Regions from separate parts of the Homo sapiens genome. Here region 1 is linked to region 2. Evidence: fine-mapped expression QTL. A gene starts in region 2. The other region holds a variant in brackets. All regions are shown on one strand. Distances are between the middles of the regions. Region 1 overlaps LINC01374 (long intergenic non-protein coding RNA 1374). Region 2 holds the start of LINC00865 (long intergenic non-protein coding RNA 865).

Region 1 (9,662 bases), 59 kb after region 2:
ATCTGATGACATTTTTATAAGATCTCCCTCCAAGGAGGAGGAAGCTTTTCTTCTCTTACAAGGGGAAGGGATTTGATTCTGTCACCTCAGAGGTCTCAGGACATTCTGGTGCTTTACAATTCTCATCTGTGTCTATCCAGATGTTTCTAAGGTATCAAGATGCCTCTTTGGTTTTTTCTATTAGGACTTGAATTGCTACAAGCATATAATCTATACTGCAGGTATTTCATATAGGCATTAAGTGATTCAGAACCAACTAATTTTTAGCATCATAAAATTAGGGTTTCACCGGCTTGTAGTTTGACAGGATACTTATTTATAAAATGATTTTCACAACAATCTTTAAAGGTAGGTATGATCTCGATTCAACCTTGGAGGAAACTGAAGCTCAGTAAAATTAAGTGACTAGCCCAAGGATGCACAGTGATCAATTGCAAAGAATGAACTCTATTTTGTCTCTGAAGTATGTGCACTGCCCATTATGTTACATAACCTTTCTTTATAGCTCCTATCAAGTCATTCTACATAAGAAACATCTTATGTGGGAAACACTTCAATCTAGCAACTGGTTACTGTAATGAAAAGATATAGTGAAACTAGATACTTGAATTGACCAGTTTATATATTAATAATTTTGTGATGGATTCAATTAAAGATTTTATGAAAACCTTGGAAGAGTATGAAATAATTATACAGTGTTTATTATTTTAGCTCTCATTTATCTATTTTGGATACCTGAACTTATATGTTAAAGAACATTAAGTACATATAGTTAGGTTGGAACTCAGCTGGGATTCAACTTGTTTGCTGAAACTTCAGATACTATAAACTAGTATCCTGTGTAGTCAGAATTATATTATCTTGACTCATTAACTTTATTTAGCATCTATTTTATACTACATACTGATTTTATTAACTTCTAATCACTCTTGTTTCACTTGTTTGAGATAGGTAAAGCAGAATTTATCTGGAGTTTAAGATTAAGGCTGACAGATTAAATCTGCTTCTGTTATTGTTTGTTTCTGATATTAAAAGAGACTTCTTATTATGACCCCAGTCCATCCAAATTGTATACTATAATGGATTCTATATGAATAAATTAAGGGATCTAGATTTTAATAGTAAAACCATTTTATAGCAGCAGTAGTTTTATAAATGGATATTTTACCTCTTAAACAAAATGTAATTGGAAAATAAAATACACTGTCATTCAAATAACATCTCACGTTATAAATAATCAGTTTGGATGCAGCTACAAGATTTTTCTGGCACAGAAGTAAATTAAACACTTTAGTAAATTGTCAAACTGATGAAAATCCTAACCCTGTGCATGTTGTTTTAATGGTGTAAGAATATGGACAACAAGATGTTTTTGTTCTTTTATTTTTATCAGAGTAAATGGAAGAATAGTGTCACAGACAAAGGTTCTAGGATTTTCCTGGGAAAAGGAGGTTATAGCAGTTAGAAACGCCAGCAGTAGCTTACACCAATAATTTATTAAGATTTTTGTTTTTACATTATTGGCATTCCAGGGGTAGGTGGTTACTGTTGTAGGCTCATCTTCTCAACTCTCCCATCAGGGACCCAGTTACTTTCTATCATTCTGAACTGTTATTCTTCGCGTGTACACCTTCATTCTCCTGTTGGTTGCCTCACGGCTACGAGATGGCTGCTATAGGTCCAGCCATCAGGAAAAATGGGGAAGGAGCAGGACATGTAAGATCCTTTATCAGGCCACCTTCACATATATTTTCTAGACAAGGATTATATCACCGGGCCATATTTAGTTGCAAGGAGACTGGGAAAGTGAGGAACAGAATTGATTTGGCTAATCACAACTCATCTCCAGAGAATAGGCAATTTCTGCTTCCAAATAAAGTTGGATACTGTTCAGGAAGAACAGGCTGGATATAAACCGTTTGTGTTTTGGTCAGCAATATGTTCTGGTTTTGGTTTGGTGGGAAACAGGAAGCTTACTGAGGAAGGGAGACACCTGGAAGTAGTCTTAATCTGGCCATAAGGACCATGACACTCTAATATTATTTGATGGTGTGTGGGTTTCTTTTTTTCCAGAGACATCTATAAACATGGCTTTGTTACTAAGCCAAAGCCAATTATCTTTCAAAGTGATCTTCAGTTTGCTATTAGCTTCCCAGAAAGAACAGTATGATTATTAATAAGATTGAGACTAATAAACTACTGATGAGCACCAGTGAGCTAATTTGTAACCTCATTTTTATAAATGACATAAGCTTTTCACCCTAAGAAAAAGAGATATATTGAGAAGACAAACAAACAAAAAATCCAAAACTAATCTTCTTCCTCCAGACAGAATCTCTTCCTTCTTTTCTTCTAACATGAAATATTGTTGTTAACCAAATATTTTTCTTTTAAAATTCTAGGAATCACTTTTTGGAAATCTAGAATTAGTGAACTCAAATGGTTGTTAATGTTTTATTATTGAAATAGTGAAGCAAACTAAAATAATTAAAACTGATATGGATTACCATATTTATTAGCATATATTTCCTACATAATAAATAGTTTGCAGTTGATATGAGAAGAGAGGAAGCTGTGAGATTACCTGACTGGATGGACCTTTGCAGCACTGACACCTGCTGCTGAATTTCCAGAAATTTCTCCTGGCAAATCTCTGTGCTGAGAAAGGAGTAAACCAATTTAGAGAAGAGGCTTACGAGTCCAAACAGGAGCAGATGATGAAGAATCAGATAAACATTAACGCCTCAACCTACTTAAGCAACTAAGATTCAATTAAACCCAGTTCATACCTCTTTGGTAAGTCTGAAGTTTCAGAACACTTGCTCTAAAATTCAAATTACTGAGCTGTACAAATTATTTTTCCTCCAATTGTGTGATGAAATATGGGAAAGACAGAAAAAGACACAAATGCATATGGTAATCCAGAAAAGATTCCCCCTCCCTATTTTCTTTTGAGTTAGATAAAAGCTAGAGCACCTAACAGAATAAGATACCGAGAGAACCAGTGTAGTCATCCAAAACAATGAAACAACTATTTTAATTCATAAAAAAGCATCATTGTAGTAGCCTTCATTAGGTATTCCTTCTAAAGTCACTTTAAAGGAAAAAGAATATGTTCAGACATAGCAAAAGAAAAAAAACACGAAGGCAAAATTCCTTCAGATCAGGTTTTGGAGATTTTTTTTATATTAAACCCATTTTGTAAATAGGTTTTCCACCTGATTTAAACCAATCGTTTTGTTATTCAAAAGTCTAGGTTGTTGTTTTGCATTTTAAAATACAGCCATTCCCCAGGGAACTGTCTCTGCGATTAGAGGGAGAATTTTAAATTCCCCTTTCCACAGATAGATGTGTACAGGAAAGAACACCAAACTGAAAGAGCAGCTTGGCTCTGCCACCTATCAAATTAGGTAAATCTGTCTCCCTCTGGGTTTCACTCTCTCCTCTGTAATATGATAAGTACCTAGATTGGACTAGATGATCTTTCAGTTTCCCTCTCTGAGTCCGTTTGGGGGCTGCTATAATAAATACCATAGACTGGGTGACTTAAACAACAAACATTTATTTTGCACAGTTCTGGAGGCTGGGAAGCTCAAGATCAAGGTGTTGTTGATTTGGCTCCTGGTGGGGACGTGCTAGTTTTGGATACGGCTTGTTTATCCCTGGCAAATCTTATGTTAAAACTTGTGGTGGTGTTGGGAGGGAAAACCTAGTGGGAGATGCTTAGGTCATCATCAATGGCTTGGTGCAGTTCTTTCAGCAGTAAATTCTTGCTCTAGTGGGACAGGATTAGTACTCATGAGACTGAATTAGTTCCTGATACAGTGAGTTGTTATAAAACCAAGACAACCATTGTGAAACTGCCTTTGCAAAGATTATGACGTGAGAGAAGTCTGGCATGGCCGCCTCCGTCTTGCCTCTAGCATCACAGGCTGGCTGTCTCCGCTCATTCCTGGGCATGGACGAAGCTAACCATGAGAAGAATTTAGTTTACAGTTTAATTGTGAAGCAAGGATAATAATAGTCGCTTCCTAAAACTGATCC[G/C]CTCCTTGTTTGGAGACTGAAACAGTCTTTGTAAGACAATGAAAGGTCACAAGATTAGTATTCTGAGAGGGGCCTGAATTCTGCTAAAATGTAAGTATAGTTAAATGATAAACAGCTGTTGTTTCCTAGCTTGTTTTCCTATAATCCCTTACTGCTCAGGAGTCATGAAGCAGAGGCCACAGACTTGTAATTTCACCAATTGCTCCTACAGGTAACATCACTATCGCAGAATGTAAGATTGGTCTTTTGAGATTGTTTAGATTTTTGTATTCTGGTGACAAATTGATTTCACCTAGACCCATGCCTGATGACTCAATTGGTCCTGTGACCCCCTTCCAGAGGCTGACTCAGTGCACAAGAACCATTTTCCATACCTCTATAATTTCATCCCTAACCAATCAGTAGCACCTGATTTCTTATCCTAGCCCCCCCCCACCCCCCCCTACCCCCCCACCCCCCACAAGTTATCCATAAGAACCTTAGACTGAGTTCTTGGGGAGGCTGATTTGAGTAATAAGCTTCATCTTGGTTAGCCCTGTGTTAATCATAAGTCCTTTGCCACAAAAACCTGCTGTTAGTGCAATAGCTTTTTTGGGCAGTGGGCAAGATGAACCCATATGCTTGGGTTTGTTTCCTCTTTGTGTATGTTCACTTCTCCTTTAACCTTCTATGTTATATTTAGACCTAGCATATGACCCTCACCAGAAACTGAGCAGATGCTGACACCAGAACAGATGAAAAACTGACTTTTGAGGGAGAGGTTTGCATCTGTGGAGGAAATGAAGTGAAGTAAACAACAGATAGAAACAGGCTTTCTTTGAAGCCCCCCTTGTTGGGACCTGGGAAAGATGAATTGAGAGTCTGACAATTTAAAGCTCTGACAGAAATATTTACTGCTGGCTACGATTTATTTTTTTCTGAAGGCTGCTACCTGTGAGGTTTCATCTGCATAGTAAGACCCCTTTGCTAGTAAGGTGTTTCCTCTTCTCTTCCTTCCATAACCTGTTTTGCTACCATAACCTATTTTGCCATGCTCTAGAGCCCTCATTTCTTCTGTAACCTCAAGATGGTATAAAAGTGTCAACCCTCTTACATTTCTTTGAGTTTTAATATTTTATATGACTCTTGTGCACATATATGTATGTCATAAAATTTGAATGCCTTTTTCCTACTAATCTGTCTAGTATCAGATTGTTTTATAGACTCAAATTATTGAATCTTAAGGGGAAAAATGTAAATTTCCCTATAGGTTTATAGCTAGAAGGAACTTGCCTTGAGTCTCAAATGAGATGTTGGACTTTGGACTTTTGACTTGATACTGGGACTAGTGAACACTTTTGGAACTATTAGAAGAGAAAATTGTCTAATTGTGTTTTGAATGTGAGAAGGACATGAATTTTGGGGGGCCAGGGGCAGAATGCTATGGCTTGGTTATGGCTTGTTTGTTCCCACCAAATCTCATGTTGAAATTTGATCCTCAATGTGGCAGTGTGGGGAGGTGGGGCCTGTTGGGAAGTGTTTGGGCCATGGGGGAGGATCTGTCATGAATGGCTTATTGTTGTTCTCCTGGTAGTGAGTTCTCGCTCTAGTAAGATGGAATTAGTTCTTGCAGAAACAGATTAGTTCCTGAGAGAGTGAGTTGTTGTAAGGCCAGAATACTTCTTGATTTTAGTTCTGCTTTGCATGTGTCTACTTTTCCTTTGACTTTCTCTGCCATTTTTTGACGTAATATGTGGCCCTCACCAGAAGCTGAGCAGGTGCCTATGCCATGTTTCTTGTACAGCCTGCAGGATTATGAGATAAATAAACCTCTTTTCCCTGCAAACTACCCAGTCTCAAGTATTCTCTTATATCAACACTAAATGGACTAAGACAGGGCTCTTTTCCTGGTTTGAAGATAGTCATCTTCTTGCTTATCCTCACATGAGAAAAGGAGGGAGAGTTCATCTCTTTTGTCTCTTTTTATAAGAGGACTAATCCCATTCATGAGGGCTCTACTTTTATGACCTGATTACCTTTCAAAGGCCCCACCTCCAAATACCATCACATTGGGAATTAGGGTTTCAACATGTGAATTTGAGAGGACACACAGACATTCAATCCATAGCACTTTTTCAGCCTCAGTATTCTGTGTTTTCCAGTCTCTGTGACAGAGGCCTGTATGGTCTAGGCAGGCAACTTAATGGAAGAAAATGGGCAGGTTCAACTTAAGGCAAACTGAGGAGAGTGTGCCCAGGCTAAGGGACACAGCTACTACTCAGCTCAAGCCCACAGGTGTGAGCAAGATTGCAAGGCTCATGTTGTAATATCTTATTTTTCAGGGGAGACTGCTCAGAAGTCAATCTTTTTGCCCTTAAGTCTATTCTTCCACTCCCACCGCTTAGCTTTAAATTGTGCAGACTGACTCCTATAGGCTGCGGTTTCCAGATTCCATTTCAGCTGGCTTCTGTCTGGGTCCTACCAATGGGAGGCACTGGTGGGAGATGGGGGTGAGGAAAAAGGGAGAAACTTGGTTGTTTCTAACCCTGCCTCTCAGCCTTGAACAATGCCTCCAGCAACAGAAATATCTCCAAAATGACGCTAGCTTTTGAGAGACAGGCCTATTACAACTCCGGCTTCCACTGAGTGACCTTAGTTCTCTCCTCATCCCTTCCTTCACACCCTATATCTGCCTCCTCCTCTCTCTCCCGTTTCGATGTGACAGTGGCTTCCTTTTGTTGCTAATCTCTATGCTCCCTCACAATTCCCTGTTTATCAGTTCTCGCTTCACCTATATGACCAATTTTCTCCATTATGTACTTCGTGTGTCAAAGATTCAGAGTTATTTCTTTTCTCTGAGGTTGGACTCTGACTGATGTAGGCTAGAAATATAAATTCTTGCCTGAAATCTTCCCATTTTTAAATGCTGGTAGATTAGTCAGAATTCTCCAGAGAAACAGAATAAACAGGATATTAATTAATTAATTAATTTCTAAGGTATTTGCTCACATGACTATCGAGGCTGACAAGTCTATAATCTGCAGGGTGAGCTGGCAGACTGGAGATCCAGGAAAGCTGACATTCTACTTTCAGTCTAAAGGCAGTCTTCTCCAGAACCCAGAAGAGCCAATGTTGCAGATGAAGTCTGAAAGCAGTCTGTTGGGGAATTCTCTCTTCCTGGGGAATACTGGTCTTTCTGAAGGAGCTTACTCACATGGGGGAAACTTCCTTTACTCAAACTCTGCTCAAGGTTTCTCTTGCTCAAAAATACCCTCATAGAAACACCCAGAATAATGTTTGACCAGATATCTGGGCACAACATAGCCCAGCCAAGTTGACACATAAAATAAACCGTCACAACTGGCAAACAATTAAAAACACCCACTGGGTCAAAGAAAACATGACTTCAGCTTCCAGGTACATTTGTAACCTCTGTTCTCTAAATGTACATGATCAAACAAATAGACAAAGACAGATTTTGGCAAGCTTATAGAATTTCATGTCATAAGAAGTGTTCAATGTTGTATTCTCCCTAGGATAATTGATGCCAAGGAGTATTTGAGGAATATAAGCTGTGTGAGAAGAAGAGCCTCTGTTGTTGCAATCCTAGCACAGTGCCAGGCACTTAGTAAATGTACAATATATATCTGTTGAATGAATAAATAAAAGGAGTTAAATTTAATTGGATAGTTATTTAATTATCACCTGCTAGAGGCGAGGCACTGCATTAGGTGCTGTTGGAAATTCAAAGATGTGTAAGACACACCTTTGTCCAAATGCACTTGCAGTTTGATAATGCATGTAAGGCTAAGTGATAAAAAATTTTTGTTTCTCTTGAGAAAAAAATGAACAATGGATATATTATGGGCAATAGGTATTATATACTTAACCACATTTCCTTTTGATTTTGCTGTCTGGAAACACAGAGCTAAATTTCCTGTTCAAACCTGGCCGGAATACAGTAGCATCCTAGAGCCAGCTTACCTGTGCTTTTGTCCTTCTCAATAGTCCTTCTCCCTTCTGCTTACCCACCTGTTCTAATGCACATACCCCTAGGATTTTACTTGAAAAATAAACCTTTTATAGTTTTGTTGATTGGAGTCTCTGTAAGCTGACCCAGATCCTTTGTGGAATCAGGTAACCTGAAGTTTCTCGTGATTCAAAGGAGAAGTGACTCTGGCTCTTTGGATTAGGGAAGTGTTTATCCAAAGGTGGCATCTCATAATTTTAATTTCCATTTCCCTGATGATTAGTGATGTGGAGCATTTTTCTTACATTTCTTTGCCATTTGTATATCATCTTTTGTGAAATGTCTATTCATGTCATTTGCCCACTGTTTGCTAGGATTATTTATTTTTTCTTGCTGATTTGTTTGAGTTCTTTGTAGATTCTGGATATTAGTCCTTTGTTGGATGCAAATCCATTCTGGGGTTGTCTGTTTACTCTATTATTATTATTATCATTATTATTATTATTTTTGCTGTGCAGAAACTTTTTAGTTGAATTAAATCCCATTTTTTTGTTGTTGTTGTTGCATTTGCTTTTGGGGTTTTAGGCATAAATTCTTTGCTTAGGCCAATGTCCAGAAGAGTTTTCCCTAGTTTTTCTTCTAGAATTTTTATGTTTTCTGGTCTTATATTGAAGTCTTTAATCTATTTTGAGCTGATTTTTGTATGTGGTGAGAGATAGGGATCCAGTTTTATTTTCTTACATGTGGCCATTCAGTTTTACCAGTACAATTTATTGAATAGGGTGCCTTTTGTATACTTTGTCAAAGATTAGTTGGTTGTAAGTATTTGGATTCATTTCTGGGCTCTTTTTTTTTGTTCCATTGATCTATGTGTCTACATTTATACCAGTACCATGCTGTTTGGGTTACTACAGCCTTGTAGCATAATTTGAAGTCAGGTAATGTGATGCCTTGGTATTTCTTCTTTTTGCTTAGGATTACTTTGCCTATTCAGGCTCTTTTTTTGGTTCTGTGTGAATTTTAGGATTATTTTCTCTAATTCAGTGAAAAATGATATTGATATTTTGATAGAGATTGCATTGAATATGTAGATTGCTTTGGCAGTATGGTCATTTTCATGATATTGATTCTTCCAATCCGTGAACATGAGATGTATTTCCATTTGTTTGTGTCATCCATGATTTCTTTCAGCAGTATTTTGGAGTTGTTGTAGAGGTCTTTCACCTCCTTGGTTAAGTATATTCCTAGGTATTTTATTTTATGTATTTTTCGTCTGTGCAAAAGGGATAGATTGACTTCTTTATTTGATTTTAGCTTGGTTGCTGTTGGTGTATAGCAGTGCTACTTTGTGTACATTGATTTTGTAACCCGAAACTTTGCTGAATTTGTTTATCAGGTCTAGGAGTCTTTTGGAAGAGTCTTTAGTGTTTCCTAGGTATACAATCATATCATTGGTGAACAGTGATAATTTGACTTTGTCTTTTCCAATTTTGATGCCTTTTATATATTTCTCTTGCCTGGTTTCTCTGGCTAGGACTTCTAGTACTATGTTGAATACAAGTGGTGAAAGTAGGCATCCATGTCTTTTTCCAGTCCTCAGAGGGAGTGCTTTCAACTTTTCCTCATTCAGCATGATGTTGGCTGTGGGTCTGTCACATATAGCTTTTAT
Region 2 (9,662 bases):
AACACAAGAGAGAGTAGTTAGTTACCTTTGCAGCTTAAGAATGCTTAAGCCAAGTAAGAGAAAATACCACTTCCTCTGGTGGACAGTAAGTCAAGGGAAATATTATGAGTTTAAAAATGTTTTTATATATTCACAAATAAAAGAACCATGATTAAGAGACTCTGAAATGCTTGGAGAAACACTGTTCTTGTTAACATTATAGTTAGGGGCAAATCACCTCCCAAATGAATTGTTGAAGATGCTATTGGCCTGAATGGACCATTGATCCAATCCAGAAAATTATCATTTCTTTTTGTTTTGGCTGGAAGGCTTAGCTTTTAACATTTTGACAACAATTATAGAGAAAGAGCAATATTGCTTATTTAGCATCCTGCTGAATTTCCTTATTGTAGAATTTTCATCTAGAGTTTGGGTAACTCTAAAATGCTTCAGAGGTATTAACAACATTGCAGTCTTCACCAAGTGAGGAAAACCTACAAAAAATGTGTGTGTAGGTGCAATGAAAAATTTTCAAGTCAATGTAAATGTGTTATAAGAGTGGAGAACCTGGAATTTTTAGAAGTAACTCAGCCCTAATACTTTCTGTCAAAATATAGAAGGCCACAGCTTTAGAAAATAAATACAAAACCTCAAACTTCTGTCCCTTTGAAGAATAAGAAAATATGAAACATAAAAATAAAATATCTGGAAAATACAGAGACATTTTGTTTTGCATCTTCATTTTCTTATTATTGACAAATTGAAAATTCCTGTTTTGTATTAAGCACAATGTTTGCTGTCATAAAACGTTTAAGCAGTGTGATCTGGGTTTATTTTTTGGAGTTGCCATCAGGGAGGACAGATTGCTTTTTTAAAAGTTACATTTCATTTTTTAAACCTTGAGCTAAAAAGCCTTTGGAGAATTGGGGGCACTGTCAGTGAGGTGCCTAACTCCTAGGGAATAGAAATAGAATGGCCTGGATGAAATATTTTTGTAAACTTCTCAAAATTCAAAAGTGTAACTATATGAATTTACTTTCTATTTAGTCCAGTGGATAAAAAGTGAAAGTTTGCCTTAAGGTTCAGAGTCTTGTGCTAAATTTGTTCAAAATTTCATGTGAAATAGTTACCAAATGGATACTTCCACCACACTTATCTACTTATGGTATCTGGTATTAAAAATAAAACCAAAGGAAGAAAAAGGCTGCTAATAATGGCAATGAAAACAGCTCATTCATTGGCTTTATTCCTTAGGCAAGGATTTCCAGAGCACCTTGATAGGTCTTAAGGATGTCAGATAGTGGGCATAGAGTGATGAGGAAGACAGGCACCATCCTTACCCTCATGGAGACTCTAGTTTAGTAGGAGAGGCAGGCCAAATGTGCAAAGGCCTGCAGGAGGCAGGAAAGGGACCTAAATTTGTGAAATGGTGTGAATTGATGGGAAGTGTGACAAACCAAAAAGAGAATGCACTGATTAAAGCTTTTCAAAAGAAATACTGTGTGGACCATGGAATGCATCTGTAAGCAGATTAGTCCTACATACCATTTGAAACCTCTACATTAAAGGAATAATTGCACAAATAACCATGCTAACCATGCAGGAAATAAGGACTATAAGGCATAATCCAAGATGTCATGAGAAAGTATAGTCATGATTCCTGACTATAATTCCTGAGGAAGTTGCATTTTACCAGAGACCCGAAAGATTTGATTAGTAGACTTAGTAGGCAGTAGGGACTGGAGACAGAAGATTTAAGGTGAATCTAACAGTAGAGGGCACAGGATATCTGAAACTTCCATGTGATTGGAGCCCAGTGAGTGAGGGGGGGAAGCAGCGAGGGATGAGCTGAAGTTTTAGGAGCCAGACAATGTAAGATTGAATAGGCTATGTTGAGAATTTAAACTTACTCTAAAACTAATGGGAATTTCTTAAAGGATTGTAAAAAAAAGGGAGGATTCGATCATATATATATATATATATATATATACACACATATATATGTATATATACATATATATGTATATATACGTATATATACATATATATATTACAAGCATGTTCTTATTGAGGTGTGGAGAATTCAGCAGAGGAAGAGGTCAAGGTGGGATGTGGATAGAACAGTTAGGAAGCTGTTGCAGCAGTTCAGGTGAAATGGACTGGGCTTTGGTCAGGTGGTTGGCCATTGAAATACAGAGACATTTTATCATTTGGGATTTGGAGTAGCTGTAACTGAAACTCCAAATTACAGTGGCTTGGACAGATATTTATTCCTCTCTCGCATAACTGAAATCTGTACATAGCCTAGAATTCAATTGGTGGCTCCACCATTCTTAGGGACCAGATTCCTTCCATTTTGTCAATACGTGACTTCAACCTCCTCATTGACGGTGGCTGCTTTAATTCCAGTCATGTTGTTTTCATCCCAGACAACGTGAATGATGAAGGGAGGAAAAAAGATACATCCCTTTCCTGTAAGAGAATTTCTAGAAATTATACGTGATGCTTGCAGTTACAGCTCATTGGAAAGCACTCAGTAGCATGGCCCCATGTGATTACAATGGAAGATAGACAATAAAATGTTTACTCTAGGTTACTACAGGTCTAGTTGAAAATCAGGACGTCTATGACTAAGGTTGAAAGGAACAGAAAACGTTGATAAATAGCCAACATCTGTAATACAAGTAGATAAAGTTGAGACTTGTTTTGGAAATAAAGTTAGCAGGATTTGATAACTGATTTAATGGGGGTTGGGTGAGGACAAGAGAAGGAACAAATCTCATTTCTACTTTTCTGAGACAATCAATGGTAGTACCTTTTTGGAAATGAAAAAAATGAAAAAAGGGGCAGGTTTAGGGCAAAGAACAAAAATTAATTAGCTGTTGGGAGCTTCCTCAAAATTATAGAGGGAGCAATTTATCAATTTTTTGTTGTTGTTCCATTCTAGAGATGTTTTATGCCCATATAGGAATGTGGGTGTGCATACCTGATATGTGTGTATACACACATATTTTATTTTTACAAAAATGGTAGGGTTTAATTATACCATTATATACCTAAAATCCTTTACTTGATATATATTGGGGATCTTTCCATATAATTGCATGAAGAAGTGCCTTACTATTTTTAATCATCACAGAGTATTTCATTGTATGGCTTTGCCATAATTTATTTAACCAGTTCTTATCTGTACATTTGTTTCTGTTTTTTTCAGATTATAAAAAATGCTGCAATGAATGTCTACACTTTAAAGTAAAATTGTTGGGTTTAGGGGCACATTATTGAAAATTTTGGCTTGCGTATTTTTTTCATAGAGGTGTCAGCAATTTCTACTCCCACTGGCAATATATCGGGATGCCTGTTTTCCTTTACTCTTGTCAACTCAATGTGTCAAGCTTTCTGATGGTTAAAATAATATTAGATTTTTGTTTTAATTTGCTTTTTCTTAGCAGAAATGAAATAAAACACTTCACATGTTTAAAATGTTTTATTTCTTTTTCTAAACATGTCCTCATTTTTGCTATTGGATTCTTATTTTCTTATTTAATTGAAGGAACTGGTTATACGTTAGATTATCTGTTTTGCAAATATTTTCCTGTTTATCCTTTTTTGTCCTCATAGTAAATTTCTTTCTATAAATTCAACTTATTTACTATGAATAGCTTCTTGTTATTAAGTAGGTTTAATACAGTTACCACGTTGGTTTGCATGCTTTAAACTTTATTCTCCTCTGTAAAATACATCATTTTACAGAAATGAGCTCATACTGAATATATCTTTTAGGTTTCTGCTTTTATTCTCACTTAATAATAAAAATCTTTCTAAGTCATTCATTGTTTTAACAAATTATTTTTAATTGTTTCATACATTATTCTGTCATTTGGAGTTAACAATAATTTACTCAAGCAACCCTCCCGCTGTTGCATAATTAGGTTATTTTCATTTAAAAAAAAACCGATATAAGCTACAGCCATGGTAGTTTCACTATGATAAAGTCCTCAAAGTAAAATTTGGAGGTCATTGTGCAAAAGTACTCTCCTTGTGCTTCAATGCTTCCCGCAGCTAGACCAAGCTCCGCGGGCAGGAGCTGGAGTCCAAGCTAGGGGAAAGAAGGACCTTCCGGGCCCATAAGGCGGGAGGCAAGGAGGGCCCCTGGGCAGCCCCGCGCTTGCGCGCCAATCACGGCCGTTATGGATTTCGATACGTTACCAAACGGTCTCCTACAAAGGCAGAAACCGTTTAAATATTTCAGAAGGATTGATTTTCATTTTGCAAATATAATACTGGTTCATTTTCTTTCTCTTCCTCCATCCATTCTACTATTGAACATAAAACGTGTCAATAGTATTGTAGTTCAGCATGTATCTCAGGATATTAAAAGGGCAGTGTGACTCAGCTAGAAAAGGATGAACTTTCCCCAAAGATAAAGTGACCTATGCGGTAAGTCCTACGGGACTTCATATCCTCATTGGAGAGAGGTTTAGGGTGTTTCTAGTTGTAGCAGGGTTAGTTGCACCTTAGGTTGAAGCAAGATTTTGCTACTGGAAATTAAATATGGTAAAAGGAGGTGCTCTCGGCCGCCAATTTGACAAGGGATGGACCGTGCTGGTTTTGTATCAACTGGCCTAAGCTAGAACTTCATTTCCATTATGTCTCCATATCAGGTTTGGCCAAAAGATATATCTATGCCAGATTTGGGAAGCAGAAGTGAAAGAGTAACCGTTACTCTGTGTAGCTGGTGCGGAAGGAGAGAAGTGTAGATGTACTGCTTGTGGGCTCTAGCTTGTCCTCGCCTGCCTCTGTCTTGACTCCAGCTGGTGTCCTTTTCTGCCTGCCTTGCTGACCAACAGCAGCCCCAAACCCACAGTCAATGCAGAGGCAACAGCCTTCCATGCACTTCTTCGCCAGCTCCTGTTGTGGTCTCACTCTTGCAACTGGATGTTCCCAGTTCTCTATATGTAACCTGTGACTTTTCCTTCACTTGACTACTTCAGGAGAGGTGAATAGAGACTTTTCTCCAATTCTCCACCTTCCAACGGTGGCCTTACTTCCCCGTCTCCTCCCACTATTGTGCAAGGTCTAATTTTTTAATCCTTAGACTATAAACTCTGTGGAGGTAGCCACCTGTTTAGTTTACAGCTATAGTCCCAGCGCCTGGCACCCAGAAGACACTCATTAAATGTTTGAAGAATTATTAAAGCCCCCAATAATTGATAGCCCTTATTATTTATCCAGTACTTAGATTCTCAAATATGAAACACGAACAACTTGGTTTCATTATCTGGCTTAAAAAGCTTATCAGGGAAAAAGTTTTTAAAAATATATTTTGGGCAGCATTTGAGTCATTTCCCGCACCCCCAAACCTATGTCAGTCGATAGGAAGTCTGAAATTGCCTTGAGTTCTGTAGGCAGGACACTTCAGTGGGCTGAAAAGTGTTGGGCTTATACCTCACTGCTCACTGCTCATCATAACTCTTCCCCTCTTTGCTTGGATTTTTTTTCTTAAATATGCCATGGTCAGCAAAATTTTTATTTCCTTTCTTCTGTAAAGTGACTTCTTTAAAAACCCTAATTATCTTATACTACCTAAGTTTTAAATTGTCTGAGAGAAATATTTTCTTTTTGTTTTACCTAAGAGTGTCTTTTCAATTTTCTTTTATTATCTTTTCAAAACCATATCACTCAACCATCTACAGCTTAGTGTGCAGCATTGTGGTATGAATATGTGGCTGGAAAGTCAGGGATTTAAAAGAACTATGAAATATATATTTTGACTTTTGGGGATAATTTTCTGGGAACAGATTTTTAAATACCTCAAGCCTTTTTTATATACTAATATCCTACCAAATATATGCCATTTTAGCAGCTCATAATAGTTATTAATAAAATATTATGGTTGTTATTCTATTGTTTAACTCTTCCCCCATGTCTTCTCATGAAAAGCTCATATACATAATGTATATTGTATTCTTCCATACTGACTATAACATATTGACTGTTCCTGACCCTTCTGTTTAACCAGTTTTAGCATTTTTCACTTTCCTCATTTTCAGTCATTCTTCTCTTTTTGAAGTATTCCCTGTTCACTTCCATCAGGTTGGAATTTCACTTTGGCCTCACAGTCTACTCAATCTCTTTAATGTCCCATGAGCACATCTTTCATGGCATCTAAGTAGGCTACCATGTAATTCAATCATTTTTCACACTTCTTAAATGTTAAAAAAATTAATACATAAACACTTAGAAAAGTAGAAAATTCTTCATTTAATTATATTAACTCTCAACAATCCTTAAAGTTCTTTAATTGTAAATTTCATTAAGGTAACTTAGGTTCTTGTTCATAAAGTCAAAAAGTTGTATGTCATGTAATGCAAATTACACCATTATCCACTCTTCTCCATCTCTGATTCTCACTCTCCAAAGGCAACAACTTTCATCTCTTTTAACTGTTTTTTTTTCTATTGTTTACTGTCACAAGCCTATAATATACCTCTCATACTATTTATTTTTCAGTTTGGTTCTTATCTATTGCCTTTCTTCTACAAAAGATGAGGAGTTGGCTGTCTTACAACTGGGCATGTAGCTTCTTCTTTCATTTCTTAATCTTGCAATATCATATTTTTAAAAATCTTATCAGTGTTTAGTGTTTATTTTGACAATGTAAATATTATTCACAGATGAACTTGTAGTGTATTAGGTTTACTTCTTTTTTGTAGACCTTTGCTTTTGTTTTTCCTTGACTATGCATTGCCTTGATTTTTGTTTAGTTAGTTTTCTAAGTAGTTATTATCAGTTCATTCTGCCAAATTCTGACAAGTCTTAAGTGCCTTTTGATACATTCAAATGAAACTATCCAGTTTCTTTTATTTTCCTTTTTTTCCTGGAGGCCACGGTCCTAGGTACATTGCCTTCATGAGCTCCTTCCTCCATAAAAAATAAAAATTATTTTACAGCCACGTTGGTATAAAGGTAAATATGATCAGGGTGGATTTATTATCATATAGTCACTGTTATTATATTAATTTTATCTCCTAATTTTAAAGGAAATTAAAATGACGACATTTTTGTAAATTCCTAACAGCGTCATGGGCCCTCAAGCACTATGCCTACTCAGCCTAATGGATGAGTCGGCCCTACGGAAGGCATTCTTTGCTTCTGAACCCCTCTTTTCTCCTGTTCCAATCTGGACTACTTATTCTGTAGGCCCTGAGATGTTTTCTTACTGTTATCCTGACAATTCAATTTTTTTCTCTCATATATTGGATCCCCTATTTCTGTGAATATGTGGCTGGTTTTCTTTCTGGTAGTACGCCTTCATTTTGATAGAGTGCATCTTTCAGAAGGCTCTGCTATAGCATGTCTGGAGGTAAATATGAGGCCTTGCATGTGAGATAAATGTTTCAATCTACTCTCATAATTGGTTGTATAGAGGAAGAGTAATCATTTTCTTCAACAGTAAGTTCTTAGTTGAAATGAACTTCTGTAATACAAGACAGATCAACAAGAGAAAAACAGAAGTGTATTAACATGTGTATTTCATACATACACCAGAGACACCCAGGGAATGAGTAGTTCTCAGAATTGGCTTTGAATTCTGGCTGATATAGCATCTTCAATAATGAACAGCAAATTTCTGGAGAGGTAAAGGAAAAGAACTTTAGGAGTGGCAACTTGTGGGAAGGCAAATGCATAGCAAATAAAGGCTAGCTAGTAATGTTTGTTAATGGAGATTTCCCTGGTATCATCTCCAGGTGGTAACAGTTTAAAGTTGTCTTATGTGGTTATCTTTTGGTCTCCCTGGTAGAAGGGAGGCAGAATACTTTTAGTTTTTGTATGTCCTGCTTTTAGGCAAATAGAGGGATGGCAGAGAGCTTCTCTGCATCTGCTTCTTCTTAATTACCTGCAGCTCAATAATCCTTTATATTTTGGAGTAGCACAACAGATAGTTTGGCTGGATATAGAATTCTGGGTTGAAAATTATTCACCTCCTAGATTTTTTAAAACTGCGTACATCATATATGTTCATTGTAAAGAATGAAAAACATATAGAAAGAAGAAAATAAACCAAGCCTGAATGCTGCACCCTAAATTAGCCATCAATATTCTGGGATCCTTATCGATAAGGGGGTCAAATAGTCTGTTTGGAATGTACCCTGTCACTTGCTCCCTGGTTTTCAGAACAGTCTTACTGCCTTTAGGGCGACTCTGGTCCTAAAGTCCAGAGCTTTGCTGAATTGACATCTCTGGAGAATAAACCAGTTTACTGCCAGTGGGGAGTGGATATGGACTGCTAAGTATTGAGACTTCCAGTTCCCCTATTTTTCATCTTACCTGTTCCACCATTGGGCACATGCCACCTCCAATTCAGGGCTTTTGAGGGATTTGCAGCAGAAACTACTCTGTTTATATTTCTGCCACTGCTGGCTTAGGTTTTCGCTTTCTCATCTTTGCTAAAAACTGCTAATAAAACATCTGCATTGTTGCTTCCAAAATTGTATTGCTGTTGTCTCTTTGCCACTTCTATTCATTCTGTGGTTTGACCTTTTAAATTAATATCTTTAGGATCCTTATAGTGAGCTATGGGAGGGAGTAAAGGTATATGTCCATGTTCATTTTCTGATGATTAGTGGGAAGTGTCTCATAACATTCTTGTATACATTTATTTTTTATTTTTTTGAGATGGAGTCTGACTGTCACCCAGGCTGGAGTGCAGTGGCCCAATCTCTGCTCACTGCAACCTCTGCCTCCCGGGTGCAGGCAATTCTCATCCCTCAGTCTCCTGAGTAGCTAGAATTACATGGACACCACCCTGCCCAGCTAATTTTTGTATCTTTAGTAGAGATGTGTTTCTCCATGTTGGCCAGGCTTGTCTCAAACTCCTGACCTCATATACCTTGACCTCCCAACATGCTGGGACTATAGGCTTGAGCCACCGTGTCTGGCCTTATATACATTTTTATACACTATTTTAGTGCTCTAGAATCCTTAGGGCAAAGTAACTATGTGTGTGGTATGTCTGTGTTAAGGATAAGATGGTATCAGCCCTAGAGTCTGATGCATAGTTGAGCCTTAATTTTATGCTATTACTATATTTATTTAATCAAAAACTTATCTTCCTTACTCCTTTTCCTCACATATAAGTAGCTTAAGTGTTAAAATATATTCTTTCTTCACACAATGACATTAAATCTATGTCAAAACAATTACCTTTCCAGGAACAAATAGAACCTGTCTTGCTTGGAACTTAAAAATAATTTTTCAAAATCCAGCAGAACATCTCTCCTTTTTGTAAAGCATGATTATGTCCTACCTACACACATTAGGAGAAACTATACCTTAAAAATATAGAAAATTTATGTTGGGGTGTGGCGATTCATGCCTGTAATCCCAGCACTTTGGGAGGCCTAGGCGGGCAGATCACTTGAAGCCAGGAGTTCAAGATCCACTGACTAACATCATGAAACCCCATCTCTACCAAAAATACAAAAATTAGCTGGGCGTGGTGGCACATGCCTGTAATCCTAGCTACTTGGGAGGCTGAGGCATGAGAATCACTTGAATCTGGGAGGTGGAGGTTGCAGTGAGCCAAGATCATGCCATTGTACTCTAGCCTGGGTGATAGAGCAAGACTGTATCTCAAAAAAAAAAAAAAGAAACAAACAAACAACAACAACAAAAAACAA

What was found. PIP is the estimated chance that this variant, and not a neighbour inherited with it, causes the effect.
Region 1: its variant is the best candidate, but not a certain one, in a credible set for the expression of LINC00865 in whole blood (TOPMed, PIP 0.53).

What each region holds. Positions count from the first base shown.
Region 1 is chr10:89,884,154-89,893,815 of GRCh38, forward strand. The region is part of intron 1 of LINC01374 (long intergenic non-protein coding RNA 1374); the gene reads left to right. Among named protein-coding and RNA genes, the nearest start is that of LINC01374, 35 kb to the left of the region's middle. The variant G/C (reference allele first, on the strand shown) is at 4,045.
Region 2 is chr10:89,825,327-89,834,988 of GRCh38, forward strand. It overlaps LINC00865 (long intergenic non-protein coding RNA 865), which reads left to right and starts at 4,167. Exons shown (of 4, transcript NR_038382.1): 1 at 4,167-4,419; 2 at 4,644-4,978. LOC105378424 (a long non-coding RNA gene) reads right to left here and starts at 5,495. Exons shown (of 3, transcript XR_946196.3): 1 at 4,706-5,495.